2 separate regions of the Homo sapiens genome follow, and region 1 is linked to region 2. Evidence: fine-mapped expression QTL. A gene starts in region 2. The other region holds a variant in brackets. All regions are shown on one strand. Distances are between the middles of the regions.

Region 1 (14,746 bases), 170 kb before region 2:
ATTCCTGCCAATGTCTCATCAGCAGTTCCTTAAATACAGGATCCCTACACTAGAGCCACTGGCCCTACTGATGACCACGTCAGTTAAAAACATAGTCTACAGAAGCCTAGGAGAGATCCTTCAGGGTCTCAGAAGACAGAAACAAGAGCACTTTTCCAATACCACCACTGCTTCAACAAAGCAAAAGTCAATAGAAACTCCCTTTCCTACCTCGAAAGCTCTATTTGGCATCAAATTTCTGGAGCAAGAGCACACTTACACGATAGGACCTGAAGGTTGCCATCTGCTCTACTCTGTACAAATGGGCCATCTCCTGGCAAGACTGTAATGATGCCTGATGTGATGAATAAAACTTAGGCATTGCTCCCAGGCTAAAGTAACAAAAGAGACGCGATGGAGGGGCTCAGACAGAGCTTTACATAAGGTAAAACAGTGGGGCTTCTGTCTCTCAGGTATATAATTTCATACCGATTCTAGGCAAGATATTTCCTCTTATTCCCTAGGATGAGGTTAAAGATATACCAAGGGGCCAGGCACAGTGGCTCACGCCTGTAACCCCAGCACTTTGGGAGGCCGAGGCGGGCAGATTACCTGAGGTCAGGAGTTCAGAAACCCCATCTTTACCAAAAATACAAAAATTAGCAGGGAATGGTGGTGGGCGCCTGTAATCCCAGCTACTTGAGAGGTTGAGGCAGAAGAATAGCTTGAACCCAGGAGGCTGGTCTCATGAGGTTGCAGTGAGCCAAGGCTGTGCCATTGCACTCCAGCCTGGGCAACAAGAGCGAAACTCTGTCTCAAAAAAAAAAAAAAAAGACATACCAGGGAACTATCCACAGGAGAGAAAAGTTTGTACACACAGCAGGGATTTACACACTGTTCTAAGTCATAAGCTCATTTTCCTTTGCCAGCAAAGGTCCCAGGACTATCAACTTGGAACAGAAGTCTTGTTGAGTATGTGCTAATAGTGCATTGGAGCATTTCTTTTAGAAAGCACTCCACTACTCCTAGTTTGCACCTGTTCTCCCTGTGGATATATATGGGCTAGATCACCTTCGCTGGGAGAGAACACAAGTTCCCCCAATGTCTCAAGGAGACTAATAGAGAGCAAACTCAGATTTACCTATGCAGCACTCTCATGTACAATAACCTCTTCTGGCTCCCACTGAACTGAATAGCTTTCAGCTAAACTAGTAATCACATCACACAGAAATGCCAGTTGAAATACAATACTAGTTAGGTAGTTATTATAGTCAATATGCAGGGGACCAAAATAAGATACTTCTAGAGCCAAAAAATATGATTATAAATGGAATAGAAATTTGGGACAGAAATATATAAAACACATTAACAAAAAAGAGAGTGGTATTCATTTTGTATTCACCAAATATTTACTAAATTATCTACTGCATTCTAGGTACCCTACTAGATAATTAAAAATACAGACAGATGCAGTCTAAGCCCTCAGGGAACAGACAATCCAGTAAGGAAGAACAACAATGAACAAGTAAATTACAACTATGATTATGAAAGAAAAACTAGAATGCTTTAAGAGCATGTATCCAGGGAACATAATCTAGTTTTTGTTTCTGTTTTTGGTGGGGGTAGGAGAGCAAAGTATGCTATAAGGCTAAATAAAGGAAAGCTAAAAAAGTAAAAATATGTTACATGCACATTCTTGTGAGAAAATAAATACATAAAAAAGCAAAAATGTCTATGTCTCCAGCACCAGCCAGACATAATTTTTAAATCTAGCTGACCCTCTTGTAAAGTATATCCCTACTGTGAAAAGATACATCAGATCCCAGAAAACTGATTATAATCTGCACTCCATATAATAAACCTTCCTACCTAAAAAGGATGTACTAATTATCTAAGACCAGTATATAATTCACTCTGTAGCTGCAGTTCATATTATATAAATGAATAAATAGACATTCTGGTCTGTAAATCAAGATTTTGTGAGACTGGTTAGTGAGCTAGTCTTTGGGGGACTGAGCATGTCTAGGTGATAAGAATGGGTGCTAAAACTGAGCTTCTGGAAAAATAAGGTTGGACTGTGTTTCATCAATGATCAGTCAGCCAGCCCATCTCTATTACATTTCTCTGCTCTCTATAATTTCAATAAACATGATATCAGGAAGTGCTAGGGAATGGTTTAAAAATTTGCTAAGAAACTAATCTGGGCCAGGCACAGTGGCTCATGTCTGTAATCCCAGCACTTTGGAAGGCTGAGGCAGGCGGATCATGAGGTCAGATCAAGACCATCCTGGCTAACATGGTGAAACCCCGTCTCTACTAAAAATACAAAAATTTAGCCAGGCGTGGTGGCACATGCCTGTAATCCCAGCTACTCAGGAGGCTGAGGCAGGAGAATCGCTGGAACCCAGCAGGCGGAGGTTGCAGTGAGCCGAGATCGCGCCACTGCACTCCAGCCTGGGCAAAAGAGCAAGACTCTGTCTCAAAAAGAAAAAAAAGAAGAAAAGAATCTGAGCACAGTGCAAACTCATAATTAATTGTTAAAGGGATGAATGAACAATAAACTTAAGAGACTTACTGTTCCCTCTAAATCAAGTGCTGAGTTTCAAAGGAGGCGGAGACTAGGGCCAATGAAACAGCCAAGTTTTTCAAAGAAGCACATATGTGTGTGTAAAAACACATATACATACCTGCACTCAAAGCAATACCAGTGCCACGGTGGCAGATGGACATCGCCATGGGAAGAGACCAACTGTAAAGAAACACACAAAGACAATTTTAAAAAGGAAAAGATGACACCATAGTAGAGAGTCTATCTTGGCAAAAATATAAACTAATTCTGAAATAGGCACTTTTTTTTCTTTTTTTTTTTTTGAGACAGAGTCTCGCTCTGTTGCCCAGGCTGGCAATGGCATGATCTCAGCTCACTGCAACCTCCACTTCCCGGGTCCAAGCAATTCTCCTGAATAGGTAATATTTTCTTAAAACAAAACAAAACAAAACAAAAAATCACCAGCTTTTGCATTCCTGTCTTTTCACTTTTTTTTTTACCCCCCCGGAACAGGGTCTTGCTCTGTCACCCAGGCTGGAGTCCCATGCCACAGTCTCAGCTCACTCCAACCTCTGCCTCCCGGGTTCATGAGATTCTCCTGCCTCAGCCTCCTGAGTAGCTGGGATTACAGGTGCCTGCCACCAGGTCCGCCTAATTTTTGTATTTTTAGTAAAGGGGTTTCATCACCTTAGCCAGGCTGGTCTTGATCTGATCTCATGATCCGCCCACCTCGGCCTCCCAAAGTACTGGAATTACAGGTGTGAGCCACTGTGCCCAGCCGTGTTTCCACTTTTTACTTTAAAAATACAAACCTGGGCCAGGCGCGGTGCCTCACGCCTGTAATCCCAGCACTTTGGGAGGCCAAGGCAGGTGGATCACCTGAGGTCAGGAGTTCGCAATCAGCCTGACCAACATGGAGAAACCCCGTCTCTACTGAAAATACAAAATTAGCCGGATGTGGTGGCACATGCCTGTAATCTCAGTTACTCGGGAGGCTGAGGCAGGAAAATTGCTTGAACCCAGGAGGTGGAGGTTGCGGTGAGCCAAGATCGCACCATTGCACTCCAGCTCCAGTCTGGGCAACAAGAGTGAAACTCTGTCTCCAAAAAAAAAAAAAAAAAAAAAAAAAAAACACCTGTATCAGGATTAGGTTACAAAAATAAATTAAAGAATAAAGAAAACTGATTTATGGAGAAGGATCCCTACCTTTACCAGACTGCATCACTGATAGGGCTGAGAAAAAAAAAAATGATTATAACTCAAAACTCCTTTCGCAAGGAGAAACATGGGTCAAAGACACTCATTAAAGTTGGAGCTGGCATGGTGGCTCACACCTGTAATCCTAGTACTTTGGGAGGCCAAGGCGGGGGCCGTTGAGTTCAGGAGTTCAAGGTCAACCTAGGCAACGTAATGAGACCCCATCTTTACGAAAAAAAAAAAAAAAATTAGCTGGGTGTGGTGGCAGAGGCCTGTGGTCCCAGCTACTTGGGAGACTGAAGTGAGAGGGTCGCTTGAGGCCAGGAACTCCAGACTGCAGTGAGCTATGACTGTGCCACTGTACTCCAGCCCGGGTTGGGGAGAGAGAGACAGAGACCATGCCTCTAAATAAATAAATACAGTTGATACAATTAGAAAGTAATCACTATAGGCCGGGCACGGTGGCTCACGCCTGTAATCCCAGCACTTTAAGAGGCTGAGGCGGGTGGATCATGAGGTCAGGTGTTCGAGACCAGGCTGGCCAACACGGTGAAACCCCATCTCTACTAAAAATACAAAAATTTAGCCAGGCGTGGTGGTGCATGCCTGTAATCCCAGCTACTTGGGAGGCTGAGGCAGGAGAATGACTTGAATCCGGGGGGCGGAGTTTGGCGTAAATGGAGATCACGCCACTGCACTCCAGTCTGGGCGACAGAGGGTGACTCCATCTCAAAAAAAAGAAAAAGAAAGAAAGCAATCACTGTAATACAACCTGGGTCCCTCTATTTCTCCAGGTATAACACTGATGGAAGAAAACCTGAGTTTCATTTATCCACAGTTTCATATAATACATGGTCATCCTTGAATCCTCCCTTATTATATGCCCCAAAATATCCAAACTGAACATACCACTTATTTCCTAATAAGTTACCTATCCCAAATTTTTATATCCAATCTTCTGGATTTAGTATATATTTCTTAATCCACAGTAGTTCTGAAATACTTTTCATCATCAAACCCCTTTTTAAATTATGAATCATCAACTTTCCATTGAAGGACAACCAACATTGTTATTCTAGACCTAGTTCTCATGCTCAAGAGAGAACTGGTGGGTAAAATGGAAAGAACAAGAGTCTCTGAAGAAAGCTAACGCTCATCTTGGAATGTTAGCTTAGACAAAGAATACTAAGCATAATCAAACCGTATCTTCAACACTTTGAAGAGAAATAAAGAGGTTAAAAAGATCTCAAAAGAAAATTCTGCCTACATAATGAAAATGGTCATAGTAAGTAAGAAAGGAGTATTCCCAAATAAATTAAAAATATTAATACTAACTAGATACCACTCTGATCAACTCAGATTTAACAAGAGAAATATAAAAGGTGGAAGAAGAGCCACATACCACTCTGATCAACTCAGATTTAACAACAGAAATATAAAAGGTGGAAGAACAGACACATAACCAAGGACAGAGAACGATAGCATAATTTGGTAAGAAGAATCAGGAGACCGAAACCCAGAAGGAGCTGAGGCTTGCAACAATTTCAAGGACAACAAAAAAGAGGTTTTAAAATTGTATTCTGACACAGTCAGCCTCCTAACTGGGATGAACAATTTTATGCTAATTGATGACAAGAGTGTGAAACAGATTGCACAATTATTTTTCTTGTCAAAGAGAATAATTATCAGCATGAAAAAGACAGAACAAATATTGATCTGAAAGACTTGAAACCCTAAAGAGGTGAGGAAATTGGAAGATTCCAAACACACTTGGGGCTCTGGGACCAGATGAATCAAATCCCATGACTGAAAGAGCTAATAGAAGAAACATATGCACTGTTCCAGAAATCTTTCAGAAATACTGATATACAAAATGGGAGTGATGTAATATGAAACTGCTGAATTCAAATGTTACCCTATTTTTCAAAAACGGTTAAAATCATAGCCTGGCTAGCCCAGTAATGACAAGGTAAAAATATTGTTTTCTAAAAATAACCATAATATTATTTCCAGTCCCCCAGGATCTTCCAGAATCTTGTCATTTCTCATCAAGCAAGTATTTAGCCTCTACCCTTGAACCTGGGCAGGACTTGATGACCGACGGCCTCAAAAGGTAGAATGCGGCAGAAGTAATGCTGCATGACTTACGAATTCTCCTTCCTTCCTCATGCTGTGTGGAAACCCAAAGCAGCCTACAAAGACATGTGAAAGGACCTATGTGGTGAGAAAATAAGGGCCCCATCCAAGAGCCAGAATCAACTCCAAGACATGTGAGTGACTGGATCTTCAGATTAATTCAGGCCCTAGCCTTTGTGTTTTCCAGCTGAGGCCTCGGGCACCATGGAGCAAAGACAAGTCTTCTTCACTAGGCCCTGTTTGAACATTAGGTAAGAGTCTAGTATAGAAAATCAAGATGTGGGCAGGCACAGTGGCTCAGGCCTGTAATCCTAGCACTTTAGGGGGCTGAGGTGGGCAGACTGCCTGAGCTCAGGAGTTTGAGACCAGCCTGGGCAAGATGGCAAAAAAAAAAAAAAAACCCATTTCTACAAAAAATACAAACATTAGCCGGACATGGTGGCGTGTGTCTATAGTCTCAGCTACTTGGGGGACTGAGGAAGGAGGATTGCCTGAGCCCGGGAGGTCGAGGTTGCAGCAAGCCGTGATCACGCCACTGCACTCCAGCCTGAGTAACAGAGGGAGACTCTGCCTCAAAAGCAAAAAAAACAATAAAAAAATACCTCCAGAAAGTAAAAACATTTCTCCAACAGCCCAGACTGCCAATGGCCAATAAGTACATGAAAAGATGTTTAACATCACTAACCATTTACTTCCAGGCCTCTTTCAAAAAACCCAAAAAATGGGTAATAGAAAATATGACTTCAGGTATCTCAGATATCTTTCCCTGACATGCCACTCTGGATATAGCCCCGTGTTCCCTGCTGCTTTTTTCCCCCCAAGTATGTCTGGAGTTACATAACCAGAAAAGCAAATAAGGTAGTGAAAGACTCACCTCACCAACCTACAACCATTCTTTATATGACCTGTGAAAAAAGGCCACGGCTTTAAATATACAGATTCAGAATAATTTAGGATGCTCTTTTCTCTTTTTCATTATAATTCTTCCCCAAAACTTTTTTTTTTTTTGAAACGGAGCCTTGCTCTGTTGCCAGGCTACAGTGCAGTGGCGCAATCTTGGCTCACTGCAACCTCCGCCTCCCGGGTTCAAGCGATTCTCCTGCCTCAGACTCCTGAGTAGCTGGGACTACAAGCACGTGCCACCACGGCCAGCTAATTTTTGTATTTTTAGTAGAGACAGGGTTTCACCTGAGATCAGGATGATCTCGATCTCTTGACCTCATGATCCACCCACCTTGGCATCTCAAAGTGCTGGGATTACAGGCATGAGCCACCGCACCGGGCCTCCTAAAACTTTTATCTCTTAAAAAAGAAAGTTTCACGATTGAGAAGCAAGAAATAAGATCACTTATTAGCCTCCTTCTGTTTTAGTGGCATGTCCAGTTTCTACAAACAGGATTATTCCTGGAATCTGGCTTGGAAAAAAACTGAAGGGTTATGGTATTTGTGGAGGTGGTTAAAAAATGGCCAGCCTCACTGGCAGAAACCCAAGAGAGTAGCAGAGCTCAAGATGCTTTGCTGGGTTAGCCTAAAAAAACAAAAAGCAGATTTACAGGGACTTATCTTCAAAGACATCAGCAAAAACTGTTATCAATGCCACTTCTGAAGATGAGATAAACAGAGATGTATGTATATATGTATATATGTATGTATGATGTATGTATATACTTATATACACACACGTATGTATGTGACAGAGATTGCATACATATATATGCTACCTCTATCCACAGACCGGGCCTAGAAGCAATGACATCCTAGTAGCAATGAGCACATCTAGCACCCAGATACTGATTTCACAGGAGTCATTTTGAAGAACTCCTATTGGCCAGGTCTGAGACAATTTGAACACCAAAATAAATAATAACAAAGTATAATCCTTTGGGGAAATTAATGCTTGATCCATATTATCCTTGAGTCCATACTGATAAAAAAAGCAAGCTTTACCCTATCAAAACAAACAAATCTAGAAAATATTATTATAATATATAAAATTAGCAACATTACATTTGGCAACTATCACAGTAATAAATGATTTAGGCAAGTACCTCCAACAGATACTGGTGAGTAAATATCTGATGAGAAAGAATATTTAGAGTTTCAAAGTATCTCCCGCCAAAATATGTATTAATTAATACAACATCCTTATTCAGTAACTTTACAGTAGAGAAATCTAGCAGACACATCTTAAACAGTGACAAAAGTTAACATCACCAGTAATGGGATAAATCATTAGCACATGCCTCCTGATACAATGTACTGACAGAAGTATAGCATTACCGCAGGGGTATTCCTGCCAAAAATGCATAAATCATAAAACACCAAACAAACCCAAATTAAGGAACATTCTAAAAACGTCAAGGTCATAACAAATAAGGAAAGACTAAAAATCTCTCCCATACTGCAGGAAAAAGAGACATGACAACTAAATGTAATATATAATTCTAGGTTCAATCTTAGGCCTATAAAGGACATTAATGGGACAAGTGGCAAAATTTGAATGGGACCTACGGTTTAGATAGTAACATTGTGATGGTTGTACTTTGGAGACTGTCTTGCAATTGAGGAAATGCACAGCCAAGTATTAAGAAGTTGTAGTAGGCAGAATAATAGTCTCCTTAAAGATGTTCATGTTCTAATCTCTAGAACCTATGAATATGTTACCTTTTACGGCAAAGGGGAATTAAGGTTGCAGATGAAATTAAGGTTGCTAATAAGACAACCTTAAGATAAAGAGGGAGTGAGCCGTAATCCCAGAACTTTGGGAGGCCGAAGTGGGAGGACAGCTTGAGCCCAGGAGCTCAAAGCCAGCTTGAGCAACATGGCCAAACTCCATTTCTAGAAAATATTTAAAAATTAGTCAGCCATGGTGGTACATGCCTATAGTCCCAGGTACTTGGGAGGCTGACCTGGGAGGATCACTTAAGCCTGGGAAGTCAAGGCTGCAGTAAGCCATGATCATGCCCCACAAGTTTTATTAAAAACTTGTAGAAAACTTGTGCCATTTCAGCCTGGGCAACACAGCGAGACCCTGTCTCAAAAACAAAACAACATAGACTATCCTAGATTATTAGGACGGGCCCAGTGTAATCATAAAGGTCCTTAACAGCAGAAGAGAGAAATGAGAAAAAAGAAAAGCAGAAGAGGCTCACAGAAGAAAGGAGTCAAAGAAGAAATGAGATGACGGAAGCAGGGTCAGCATGATGTGACTGAAGAACTCAATGTAGCATTGCTGGTTCTGAAGATGGAGGAAGGAGGGCAGAAGCCAAGGAATTCAGATAGCCTCTAGAAGCTAGGAAAGGCAAGGACATGGATTCTTCCCTAGGGCCTCCAGAAGGAAACAGAGCCCTGCCAACACCTTGATTTTAGCCCAGGGAGATCTTGTCAAACTTCTGACCCACAGAACTATAAGGTAATAAATTTGTGTTGTTTTAAGTCACAACGTTTGCAGTAATTTGTTATGGCAGCAAATAGAAAATTAGTATAGATTGTGGTAACTAGAAGAGGAGTGCAGCTGTAACGAATACCCAAAAATGTGGAAGTGCCTTTGAAATTGGGCAGTGGGAAGGGACTAAAAGAATTTTTAGGACCATGATTTTTAAAAAGCCCAGATTGCCTTGAACAGATTTTAGTAGAAATATGGATGTTGTGCTGGTGAGGATGTGGAGAAACTAGAACCCTTATACACTGCTAGTGTGAATGTAAAATGGTACAGTCACTTTGGAAAACAGTCTGGTAGTTCCTCAAAATGTTAAACATAGGCCGGATGCCGTGGCTCATGCCTGTAATCCCAGCACTTTGGGACGCTGAGGCAGGTGGATCATGAGGTCAAGAGATCAAGACCATCCTGACCGACATGGTGAAACCCCGTCTCTATTAAAAATAGAAAAATTAGTTGGGCGCGGTGGCGCATGCCTGTAGTCCCAGCTACTTGGGGGCTGAGGCAGGAATATCGCTTGAACCTGGGAGGTGAAGGTTGCAATGAGCTGAGACTGCGCCACTGCACTCCAGCCTGGCAACAGAGCGAGACTCCGTCTTTAAAAAAAAAAAAAAAAAAAAAGTTAAACATAGAGTTACCATATGATGCAATAATTCTACTCCTAGGTATATACCCAAGAGAAATGAAACATATGTGCACACAAAAACTTGTACACAAATAAATGGTCATAGCAGCATTATTTCTAATAGCCAAAAAGTGGAAACAGCTCAAACGTCCATCAATTTATAAATGGGTAAATAAAACACTGTATGTACATACAATGAAATATTATTCGGCCATAAAAAGGAAGGAAGCACTGATATATGCTAAAACATGGATGAACGCTGAAAACATTATGGTAAGTAAAAGAAGCCAGTCACAAAGGACCACATATTTTATCACTACATTTAAATGAAATGTTCGGAATAGGTAAGTTTATAAGATGGAAAGTAAATAACTGATTGTCTAGAGCTGGGAGGGACAAACGATTGGTGGTGATGGCTAAGAAATGTAGTGTTTCTTTCTGGAGTGATGAAAACATTCTAAAATTGGCTGGGCATGGTGGCTCATGCCTATAATCCCAGCACTTTGGGAGGCCAAGGCAGGCAGATCACCTGAGGTCAGGAGTTCAAGACCAGCCTGGCCAACACAGTGAAACCCCTGTCTCTACTAAAAACACAAAAATTAGTCAGGCATGGTGATGCACATCTGTAATCCCAGCTACTTGGGAGGCTGAGGCAGGAGATCACTTGAACACAGAAGGCAGAGGTTGCAGTAAACCGAGATCATGCCACTGTACTCCAGCCTGGGCAACAGAGCGAGACTCCATCTCAAAAAAAAAAAAAAGAAA[GAAAA/A]AGAAAATATTCTAAAATTGTGGTGATGGCTGAACAACTCTGCATTTAACAAAAGCCACTAAACTGTATGCTTTCAATGTGTGAACCGTATGGTATACAAATTGTATTTCAAAAAGGAAAATATGAATGTTAATTCAGCTAGTAAAGGCTCAGGAGGAAATTAGGAACATGTTATTAAAAACTTGTGGAAAGGGGATCCTTGTTACATAGGGCAGAAAGTTTAGCAGAATTATGTCCCACGATAATGTGGAAAGCAGAATCTACTGAAGTGGCAACCTGATTTCTTTTTGCTCTTTATAGTAAAATGTGAAAGGAAAGAAACAGACTGAGGGAAGAGCTGTTAAATAAAAAGCAAGCTGAGCACGGTGGCTTACAGCTGTAACCCCAACACTTTGGGAGAAAAAGGTGAGAGGATCGCTTGAGCTCAGGGGTTCAAGACCAGCCTGGGTAATATATTGAGACCGTCTTTACAAAAAATTAAAAACTAGCCAGGTGTGGTGGCATGCACCTGTAGTCCCAGCTACTCAGGAGGCTGAGTCAGGAAGATCACTTGAGTCCAGGAGTTCAAGGTTACAACGAGCTATGATCACACCACTACTACACTCCAGCCTGGGTGGCACAGTGAAACCCTGTCTCTTAAATAAAACAAACAAACAAACAAAAAAACAGGACTTAATGATTTGGGAAATTCTCAGCCTTCCCAGCAAAAATACTAAAATTAAGATATTCACTGTTGCCAGGCGCGGTGGCTCATGCCTGTAATCCCAGCACTTTGGGAGGCCAGGGCGGGCAGATCACGAGGTCAGGAGCTCAAGACCAGTCTAGCCAACATAGCGAAACCCCGTCTCTACGAAAAATACAAAAAATTAGCCAGGTATGGTGGTGTGCGCCTGTAATCCCAGCTACTTGGGAGGCTGAGGCAGGAGAACCGCGTGAACCAGGGAGGCGGGGGTTACAGTGAGCCGGGACTGCGCCACTGCATTGCAGCCCTGGCAATAGTGTGAGACTCTGTCTCAGAAAAAAAAAAAAAAAAAGATATTTACTGTCAAGGCCTGGTACAGTGGTTCACACATAATCCCAGCACTTTGGGAGGCCAAGGCAGGCAGATCACTTGAGCCCAGGAGCTTGAGACCAGCCTGGGCAACATGGTTTTATAGAGATGGTGATACACCATGTCTATAAAAAAATACAAAAATTAGCTGGGCGTGGTGACATGCACTGTAGTCCCAGCTACTCAGGAGGCTGAGGTGGAAGGATTGCTTAAGCCTGGGAGGCGGAGGTTGCAATGAGCCCAGATCGTGCCACTGCACTCCAGCCTGGGTGACTGGGTGAGACTCTGTCTGGACAAAAAAAAAAGGATATTCATTGGCAAAAAGAAAAAGTCAGGGCGTGGCCATGTAACCTTATGTTAATACCTGAGAAAGATTGAAAGGGCAGAATATTTAGTCACATAAAAGGCGTTTTGAAATTAAGCATGTTACTAGTAGATCCCCTCAACCATCTCATCAGAAGGCAGAAACAGAGGCAGGATTATTTAGGAAAATTCTATAAGGGAACGTCTTGTCTAATGGAGCAAATTCCCATGACACAAGCAGGAGACCCACAAGGTTCTCTTTTTTTTTTTTTTTTTTTGGAAACAGAGCCCAGGCTGGAGTGCAGTGGCGCCACAATCTCGCAATCTCGGCTCACTGCAACCTCCACCACCCAGGTTCAAGAGATTCTTGTGCCTCAGCCTCCCAAGTAGCTGGGACTACAGGCGCACCACCACACCTGGCTAATTTTTTGTATCTTCGTAGAGACAGGGTTTCACCATGTTGCCCAATCTGGTCTCAAACCCCTGAGCTCAGGAAATTCACCTGCTTTGGTCTCCCAAAGTGCTAGGATTACAGATGTGAGCCATCGCGCCTGGTCCCAACAATGTTCTTAAGAATGTTATACCAACAGAAATACTGCCAGCATAGACTAAAAGTGACAGAGAGAAGATGAAAAGAAGACTGTCATACCCCGAAATTTCTACAGACAAAAAAGAGGCTGTTAAAAATGACTCAGCTGCAAAAGCATGTGTCACCTTTCACAAAGAAGGATAGCGGATGGAGCTATAAGCCCAGAGGGCAAAGCCAATAGCTGCAAAGGATTATTCTCAGGCCTTGAAATCAAATGGTGTTTGCCTGGCTGAATTTCAAACCTGGTTAGAACCAGAGACTCCTTTTTTCCTTCCATTTTCTCACTTTTTGAGCAGGAATGTCTACAGTTGTTATCCTATGTCTGTCCCACCACTGTATTTTGGGAGTATGTAACTTGTTGCTTTAGATTCACAGATGAAGAGAAAATGTTCCTCAAAAGGATTATACCCAGAGCCTCACCCATATCTGGTTCAGATGGGGAGATTTAGATGAAATTTTAAGACTTTGAGATGAGGCTACAGTAGGTTGAAACTTTTGGGGCCACCGCGATGTGGTGAATGTATTTTGTCATGGGACAGACATAAACTTTGAGGGCTAGAGGGTAGACTGTGGTAGGTAAAATAATGCACCCTCCCCTCCAGAGGTGTCAATGTATTAATCCCCAGAACCTGTGAATATATTATCTTATATCACAAAAAGAACTTTGCAGATATTATTAAATTAAAGACCTTGAGATGGAGGCATTGTCCTGAAATATTTGGGGAGGTCTAAATATAATGACAAGGGTCCCTTGAAAGGAGAAAAGGGAGGTAGAAGAAGTCAGAGTGATACAAAGCGAGAAGGACTCTGCTATTGCTTGCTTTGAAAATAGAAAAAGAATGCCATAACCCAAGGAATGTGGATGGCCTATAAAAGTTGGAAAAGGCAAGGAGCCTCTGGAAAAGAATGCAGCCCCTGCAAACAACTTAATTTTAGCCTAATGAGACCTGTGTTGTACTTCTAACCTAAAGAATGGTAAGACAATACATCTGTGTTATTTTAAGCCACTAAGTTTGTGATACTTGTTATAGTAGCAATAGAAAACAAATACAGGGACTGGGCGTGATGGCTCATGCCTATAATCCCAGCACTTTGGGAGGCCGAGGTGGGTGGATCACTTATGGCCAGGAGTTTGAGACCAGCCTGGACAACATGGCAAAACCTCATCTCTTACTAAAAGACAAAAATTAGCCGGGCATGGAGGTTCATGTCTGTAATCCCAGCTACTCAGGAGGCTGAGGCACAAGAATCACTTGAACTCAGGAGGTAGGGGTTGCGGTGGGCCTAGATCGCACCACTGCACTCCAGCCTGGGTGACCAAGCAAGACTCTGCCTCAGAAAAATAAAAAAAGAAGAAGAAAACAAATACAGGAATAATACTTGGATATCATCATCATTGCAACTTCTTCTTGTATCATTCAGACATGTTAAGCAGCTGGGAATCTGCTTATTAGCATGTCTGAATAATTTAAGAAGTTGTGGCCGGGCATGGTGGCTCACACTTGTAATCCCAGCACTTTGGGAGGCCGAGGCGGGCGGATCACTAGGTCAAGAGATCAAGACCATCCTGGCCAACCTGGTGAAATCCCATCTCTACTAAAAATACAAAAATTAGCTGGCCGTAGTGGTGCACACCTGTAGCCCCAGCTACTCGGGAGGCTGAGGCAGGAGAATCGCTTGAACCCGGGAGGCAGAGGATGCAGTGAGCTGAGATCGCGCCACTACACTCCAGCCTGGCAACAGAGCAAGACTCTGTCTCAGAAAAAAAAGAAGAAGAATTTGCAAAGTTGCAACTTCTATATAACTTAGCATATATACTATATACCTTCCATATAAAGGTATATGGGAACTCTGTATGTTATTTCTGCAACGTTTATGTAAATTTGAAATTGTTTCAAAAATGTTTTAATTAATGGGAATTATATTTTGACTTACCAGAATTTTCTAAATGGTAGTTTTGCAAAATAGATTACCCTTGTAATGACAAGATAGAATTTAGTCATCTCCACATAAAAAAGGTGTAAGATAATCCTTATGTCATCTCCCTCTACCCTGAAGGGTTCACCTCATCTACATAGCAGTATTTTGGTTGAGTAAAAGTGAGGGAAGT
Region 2 (8,178 bases):
TTTTTTGGGGGGGTGGGGGGGACAGAGTCTCACTCTGTCACCCAGGCTGGAGTGTAATGGCGAGATCTCAGCTCACTGCAACCTCCACCTCCTGGGTTCAAGCGATTCTCCTGCCTTAGCCTCCCGAGTAGCTGAGATTACAGGTGCAAGCCACCACACCTGGCTAATTTTTGTATTTTTCGTAGAGATGGGGTTTCACCATGTTGGCCAGGCTGGTCTCGAACTCCTGACCTTGTTATCTGCCCACCTCGGCCTCCCAAAATGCTGGGATTACAGGTGTGAGCCACCATGCCCAGCCTCTCCGTCCCTTTATCATACCTGGACAGGCAGATGGGCTCCTTGGTACTGCAGATTCACCACAGCTACAGACACTGCAGTGATGGCACTCAGGGCACGAGCCAGAGGGGCAGCCTCAGCAGGGAGCAGCTCACTGAGCACTAGAGATCAGGCAGAGGCCTGACTCAGAAGGCATTCCCATTACAGTTGTCAGTCCTCTTTGGGATTAGACTCCCATAGAGATGACCAGTTCAGGGGCATGGTGTGGTCCTGCTGACCCAGGAAGGTATAGCTTTTGCTTCTCACTGGTAGGGGTTGGGGAAGGGGAAGGTGGCTATTCCATTACCTGAAGCTGGAATGGCACTAATAACGTGGTCAGCCTCCAGACTGCTGTCCCTTAGAGATACCTGAGAGCATGAAAACATTTGAGAGACCCAGAAAATGAGAATTTGATGAGTGAAAAGAGACTTCTGGTGCCTCACTCTCAGTTTCCCAGGCACCCATGTGGCCGGGGAGACTGTGTACTGACCCAGGATGAAGAGATTGGGTGACTATGTAGACTTCACAAAAAATCATTCCTCTGTGTACTCCAGGAAGTGGACCAGACAGGCCAGTGTGGCTGTTCTGAAATGTTCAGTGAAGCTGGGTTCTTTCCCCTATCTCTAAGCCACTTATAAGTACTACTTCTATCCACAGACTTGCATAGGCTCTTTGAGGAAGGTTCACAAATAGGGCCTAGGATTCTGGGGTAGCCCATGTCTAAGTAGCTTCTAAGGCACAAAAACAATGAGGAACTCCAGTCCTATCGGCCCTGGCCTAGTTAAGCCACTTGGATAAAGATGGAAACACTGACAGGTTCATTACACTCCAGGGGTTCCCCTACCTTCCAGCGCCCTTCTGCCTGGAGGCTGAGCCCACAGACCGGCTGGCCTCTGAGAACACTGACCCCCCTACTAGTCAGGTGGGTTTCAAGGGCCTGAGGCAACATCTCTAGACCTCCACGAAGTGACCACTGGCTCCAGCGCTCAGCCAAGGCCTGGCGAATGAGTGCTGAGTCTGGCTGTGGGGTCCGCCCTGCAGAGGAAGCAAAGAAGAATCATTGAGGCTGGATGCAGTGGCTCACACCTGTAATCCCAGCACTTTAGGAGGCCGAGGCGGGTGGATCACTTGAGGTCAGGAGTTTGAGACCAGCCTGGCCAACATAGTGAAACTGCATCTCTACAAAAAAATACAAAGATTAGCTGGGAGTGGTGGCACATGTTTGTAATCCCAGCTACTTAAGAGGCTGAGGCAGGAGAATTGCTTGAATCTGGGAGGCGGAGGTTGCAGCGAGCCGATCTGAGATTGCACCACTGCACTCCAGCCTAGGCAGCAGAGCAAGACTCCGTCTCAAAAAAGAAAAAAAGAATCATTGAATAGCACCCCTTGTCCCCACTCCCTCACTTTGGCAGTACTTAATATTTTCACCCTCTGAATCAATCCCCCCTCACCTGCCCCCAGCAGCAGGCCCAGTAATATGGAACGATGGGTTTGCTCAGCTTGGAAGAGACTGGGAAAGCAGGACCTGATGCTGAGCTCACGGCTGTTGCCTGCAAACACTCCACGGCAGAGACTGTCCATGGCTAGAGACGCCACCTTAAGGGTGAGACTAGGACTAAGGAGCGAAAAAATAATCTACACTGACTGATTTCCACAGCCCCTATTTGGTAGGGAATGAGGGTGGGATAGGGTTTGGGTTGGGGGACATTCCCACTGTGACGGATGGAAATGAAGGCCTTCACTCCCAATAATGAGTTTTGGGAATTATGAGGGGGTGGGGTATGAAGAGAAGAGGGCATCCCCAAATGATACAGAAGAGCCCCTAGGTGGTAGATTTGAACAGGGAGCTCTGCAGCTGGTTTAGGAGGGAAGAGGTTTGGGGCCTCTGGGCAAGTGTCACCTCAGGTCCAAGGCGGCGCTGGGCAAAACTGTGCACAGTCTCATCAGGCTCTTTGCCCCGGGGCTTGGTCAGCTCCCTCAGCCCAGCCCAAAACAGAGGTTTGGAGAAGGGGGGTGAAGGGCGGAGTAGCCCCCTGCATGGAGAAAGGCATAGTGAGGGGGAAGCTCCTGACATACCTCCCCAGCTCCAGGCGCTGGGGTCATTTCCACTCATTTGGCTTCCTTTTGCTGGGAAGGCTGACAGGGAGATGAAGAAATGGAAGGCAGGTCGGGCGTGGTGGCTCACGCCTGTAATCCCAGCACTTTGGCAGGCCGAGGCGGGCGGATCACAAGGTCAGGAGTTCAAGACCAGCCTGGCCAATATGGTGAAACCCCATCTCTACTAAAAATACAAAAACTAGCCAGACGTGGTGGTAGGCACCTGTAGTCCCAGCTACTCGGGAGGCTGAGGCAGGAGAATCGCTTGAACCCGAAAGGCGGAAGTTGCAGTGAGCCAAGATCGCGCCATTGCACTCCATCCTGGGCGAGAGCGATACTCCGTCTCAAAAAAAAAAAAAAAAAAAAAAAAAAAGAAAAGAAGAAAGAAATGGAAGGCATATGAGGATGAGGGCACAGTAAAAGGAGCGGAGGTGCTGGTGTTACCTGAGGCCAGTGGGTAGGGCATGCAGGGCACCGCCCACGTAGAGGAACCTGTTCTGGGCAGCTGGGTGGTCTCCCCGGACAGGCAGCACTTCTGAATCCAAGCCAAGCTCAGAAACCTGCTCTCCACATGCCCTCAGAAGAGGAGAAACTAAGGGAAGATCTGACCCACCAAACATACTTCCTCCCCTAAACTCTATTCCCCAATGGAAGCCCCCTCCACAACCTCTCCTAGACATCCCACAAGCCTCTCACCAGGAGCAAGGTCCGGGCCCCTAGGGCTCCCGCTGGCCTAATTCCCCGAGGTCCAAGCTCAAAGATAGCACCATTAGGGCCTCGAACGGAGCGAATCCAGCCTCCCAGACGCTCACTGCTCTCCACTAGGACCACCTGGCGACAAGAGGGAGAGACACTGCAGCACCGCCTGTAGCCGCCGGCGAGAGGTCAGGAGGGGAGGGGAAGAGGCATATTCAGAGGGCCAGGATCCATCTAGCTTTTGATGGAAATGGGAAGAGCATTAAATGAAGCTCCCTCTGGCACAAGTGGAGCACTCACCTTAGGGGGGCAGGGGGCCCGGCTCAGGTGGTAACTGGCGGCCAAGCCGCTGATGCCTCCGCCCAGCACGACCACGGTCCGGCCCATGCGGAAACCTGGGGGAAAGGGGGCGATATGGACAGGCAGACCGGGGACAACCTGCGCTCCAGAAGCCCCGCCGGTTTTGAGTTCTATCCCGGCCACTCACTGCTTTAGGGGAAACTAAGTGTGCACGGATGGGCTGGTGGAACAGCGAGGTCCCCGTCCAGGGGCCAGGACTCACCCACAATAGGTAGGGATGAGAGAAAATGAGGGAGAAGGAGATCGAGGTCCTAAGACCGTACCCCGCCGGCGCTCTGCTGGGTGCAGATAAGGGCCACACCCTCGCTATCGGCCCTCGCAGGGCTCGGGCGGCGGGCAGTACGCCTGAGTTCTGAGGTGCTCTGCTTGCCACACCTCTGTAGGCCAACAAGTGCTTCAAATCCGCTACTCCCACCCCCAGCCTTTTCGGTCTCTCCTACGCTCCGTCCACTCTGTTCTCGCGGCACGCGCCTAACCCTACCTCTCCTACATCTGGATTGGCGGGACTTGGAAGGCCCCGGATCACGTTCACCAATAAAACATTGAACTGGCAGAGGCGGAGCGACGGCAGCTGTAAGAGCTGGAGGTTAACCGTGTTAGCGCCGAGCTGGGAGTGAGCGGCCGTACCCGTCACTGCCCTCCTCAGGACCGAGGCGGCGAGCGCTTAATGCTGGAGTTAGCGTTCCCCAGCACAAGCTTACCAGGTCCAGCTAGGGTGACAACCCTAGAGGGAAGGCCGCAGGAGCTTTGGTCGTAGGGAGAATAGATAGGGACACTTAAGGCCAGTCCACGGGGAGGCGGCTCCATAAACAGCTCCTTGATGTTAGCAACAGACCGGGCCTACGGGAGCTAGGGCCGCCCGGCAACGTACCCAGTGTTTGTCAACAGTGGCACTCCCCCATCGCCGACCAAACCAGTCGCCCCAGAGCCTGCACGCAGCCTCACTCAAGTATGCCTTTCCTCTTTTCCTCCCAGTACATAACCTTCACTGCTGGGGGACACAGGTCCGGGTCCAGCACCATCCCCGAAACCTTCCCCCTCGGCTCTGAGAGCGCCCCCACCTGTTAGAGAGGGAACTTGGGTCCCAAGAAGACTCCAATTTGGCTCAGTTCTCTATCACCCCCTAAGCAAAAATACAAATAAGCACATCATTTTTTCTTAATAAATTTATTCACAAAAAGTGATATTGCAGAGGGTCTGGGGGCTGTACATGGGCAGGGGCTTGGTGAGCTTTGTACATGGGGCTGGGAGACAAGGGAGCCTCCAGGTGGAAGGGTATTTTTTAATAAAAAAAATAATGGAGCTACAACCACCCCCTCCCCCCTCCCCGATTAAAAAGACACAAAAATAGACGTCTCTGAGGTAAACGGGGAGCCTGGGGCTTAAGGGTGTTTAAAGGGCTTCACAGGTGCCAGAGCTTAGAGGTGTCACAGGCACCGGGGTGGCTCCTGCATCAGTTGGTAGAACAGCACGTAGCCCTCGCTGGATGCCACCTGGTTTTCACTGACAGGGGAGACACTAGGAAAAAAGGAGATCGGGAAAGGGTTGTGGTCATTCCTGTTTACTCCCTTCTCCCTACAAGACCGAACCTCAGAGCATCCAGGAAATGATCAGGCAAGACCTCCACCTCTCCTTTCACCTGGCACTCTGCTCTCCTGGAGCTTCATAGAAGGGGAGGGTGTCAGGGCTGAGTGGGAATGGGGCAGGATGTAAATAGGAGGCTATTCTCACCGAGAGTCATTGTAGACATGCCAACCAGTCTGGCACCGGCACAGGGCTGTGTAGTGGCCATAGTGGACGCTGCCTGAGTGGTTGCAAAGGGCATACAGCTGGTATACAGGACTTCCTGCGGGGTTGGAGATGATCAAGTTCTATAATCAGAGCTGTGCCCCCACTCCTTTGGCTCCTTAGGACTTTCCCCACCAGACTCACCGGCTTTGTCACTGGCAAAGTCCCCTAGGCTCAGTCGCTGCAGTGGAAAGTCTACACCTACTGAACTTTTTTTGATGGAGCCTCGGGAGGCAGAAAATCGATTCAGATCTAAGCCCTGGTTAAGGAGCATTTGGGAGGCAGTGGGCCTCTGAGGGGAACTTCTTCTATCCTGAAAGCTGTCCTCTCCCCACTCCCGACACACTGGGAGCATCTTGTGGAAAAGTGGGTGGCAGACTTTTCCTAAGGAAAATTCAATTCTCTGGAAACATGGAGGAAAGAGAATGTATGGGAGGTATCCTAAGAGAAGTAAGAATCTGAAGATTAGGATATGGAGCACGAGGATTCGAGGGAATCTTTGTACTGTCAACTTTTTGGTACTTCGAGTTTTCTGCCGACATCGGTCACACACCTGAATAAATGGCAAACAGTGTTAGGTTAATATGCTCCTAACCTCAATTGGCTTTTCTGACACCCCGATCCACATACAAATTTAGTATGCTCTTCATTACAGCTGGATCCTCTTGGCTTCTCCCCTTTGCTCTAGGAGTACTAGAACAGATCTGAGACTCCAACACAAACCCAGATACATAAATATTATTCCCCATATGAAGACATCATGCAATCCCTTTTATCCACATGGAGTCCCCCCAGGTCTCCCACCCTTACTGTATCCCTTGTGAACCTCCACATACTGGGGCATTCTCCGACTCTAGCTCTTCTTCCTTAGTGAAAAGGTTGAAACAATCCCGCAGAGACACCTTGCCCCCAGCAAATCCTTTCTGGGGGAAAAGGGGAAGAAAGGTCAACATGTTCTGAATTTCCTTTTCCAACTCTTCTCAATCAATCCAGGCTTCAGTTCTGCTCCAGAAACCCACAGGGTTCCCGCCCACACTCTGGGGGTGGGTAGGCTTGGGTCACAGAGCCCCTGTCCTGTCCACCCCGGAATCCTCTGGAATCCCACCTTGGGGATGGGCAGGGACAGGTCACAAAAAACCTCGAAGGTCGTGGAGCGATACCCACAGGCCTGGCACTTGAGACAACTTTTCAACTGGCCCACAAACAGGTCTAGACAGAAGCACAGGGACAGGAGAAAAGGTCATTGTTGGATGTTATGAGATGATTTCTTGGATTTCCATCTCTTCCTGCCCCTTTGCTTGACCCTTCCTTTCCCACTACCAACACTCCTAATCAACTCTTCACACAGCTTCACATTTGCATCATCCAGTCTTGTTCCCATACCCCTTGATAGTATCGATTTTTCCCCCCAAGCCTGTACCCCCCTCACACACTAATTTTCCCTCATTGCTTTGCCCCATTCCATACCCACAATCTTGCTGTCCTCTCGCTCCAGGTAACGTTTCCACATTAGGTTGGCTCGGTCATCATCACTACCACAGATCAAAGGAAGTGGGGAGCACCCATGAGACAGCAGGAACACTGGGCACCCCCAACACCCACTGAAACAACCTACAGAGCCCTACTCCCCATCCACACCCCTGCTCCTTCCCTAAATTTCAAGGAAAAGTCAAAAGAATAATGCCTCAATGAACTTTCTAGGGAAATCCGAGGTGAGAGGAAAAGAAAGGAATGTACATAAGGGAAGAATATGCTGTCTTCCTCTACCTGTAAATGAATTATCCCCTTCTTCAATTTGGTGACATCCCTAGCATGATCTTCTGCCTCCATCTGCTCCCTTAGACTCCCCCTCTTCCTTCCTTCCTTCTACTTCTATGTTGCTTCTCATACTATTTTCTATACTAAAGGGTTTCCCTGGACCCTACATCTTCAATCTTTACTAGTTTAGTTCTATGAAGTGTGAATGATGCTGATAAACTACGGGGAAAGGAGGTAGAGGGAACGACCCTTACCTTAACTCAGGTTCTTCTAGCAGAGCCCCTCCTCGGCGGGGTGGAGAGGGAACTGGACCATTGGCAAGTATCGGTGGAGCCCGGCGGCCTCGGCGGTTGATTTCAAGGTGTAGCCGCTCCATGAGGAGCTTCAGGAACTCTTGGGCATCCTGCTGGCTACAGCCAGACAAAGAGTATGGGCAACTGACTCCTCTCCTAGTCCACAGACACTATTCCCTGCCCAGATATTGGTCCCCACTTCCTGGATGAAGAACATCTCAAGGCTCAGAACAATGCTGCCAGGGCCCTTGCTTGGCCCTACCCCCAGACATGGCCAGAGAGAAATCCCATAGCCTCCAGCTCTCCCACCTGTATCCAGAGAAGGAGGGAACATATTTCTGGAAGACAGCTCGGAATCGAGTAGGATTCACAGCTTCGCAGGAGTCAGGGTGCCAGAGGGCACCAATCACATCTGCAAAGGCTGTTGGGATGGGAGTGGGGAAGGCAAACAAAGGTTAATGTCTGGAAGAGGCAAGCAAAAGGTGGCTCAGAGGGTAGAAAATAACCTTTAGGAAAGTAGGCACTGGGAAAAGTAGATACAACTGCCAGATTTAAGGGTTGGGGGCCACCACCAGTGGCAGATGGACCTGCAAGTGGTTGGGGAAAAAGGGACTTGAACAGAGGGAGCAGGAGTTGTTGCCCCACCTTCAGTGAGCTCTTGGGCTCGGCCTCCTCCAGGCACCTCTTGCCGGAAGTCCCTTCTCAGACAGAAGTCCCGAAGAGGTCGAGTGCTGCTCAGACACTGCAGCACAGCATTCAGGAAGCACTGGGGAGCAGTAGGGACACTGCTGTTATCTCTCCAGACCACTGCCCAGGAAGCCTTAGAAGAGCTTCAGAGCTCTCCTTCCACATGCCTTCCCCAAGCTCGTGG

Direction of the effects. Positions count from the first base shown, and alleles are read on the strand shown. Sizes are in standard deviations (SD) of each study's normalised expression.
In carriers of allele A in region 1, the expression in skin of the gene that starts at base 3,917 in region 2 tends to be higher than with GAAAA alone (large effect, 1.0 SD a copy in TwinsUK).

Evidence for each region.
Region 1: its variant is fine-mapped to the expression of PPOX in skin (TwinsUK, PIP 0.95).

What each region holds. Positions count from the first base shown.
Region 1 is chr1:161,328,576-161,343,321 of GRCh38, reverse strand. SDHC (succinate dehydrogenase complex subunit C) reads right to left here. Exons shown (of 6, transcript NM_003001.5): 4 at 2,667-2,728. Among named protein-coding and RNA genes, the nearest start is that of SDHC, 22 kb to the right of the region's middle. The variant GAAAA/A (reference allele first, on the strand shown) is at 10,690.
Region 2 is chr1:161,162,165-161,170,342 of GRCh38, reverse strand. PPOX (protoporphyrinogen oxidase) reads right to left here and starts at 3,917. Exons shown (of 13, transcript NM_001122764.3): 1 at 3,671-3,917; 2 at 3,409-3,503; 3 at 3,109-3,243; 4 at 2,857-2,972; 5 at 2,216-2,348; 6 at 1,767-1,911; 7 at 1,160-1,350; 8 at 623-683; 9 at 319-437. The coding sequence starts at 3,495. It overlaps USP21 (ubiquitin specific peptidase 21), which reads right to left. Exons shown (of 14, transcript NM_001014443.3): 5 at 7,953-8,073; 6 at 7,617-7,728; 7 at 7,269-7,424; 8 at 6,724-6,788; 9 at 6,362-6,465; 10 at 6,093-6,179; 11 at 5,731-5,809; 12 at 5,401-5,508; 13 at 5,200-5,314; 14 at 4,620-4,986. The coding sequence ends at 4,896. RefSeq lists an enhancer at 2,199-2,862.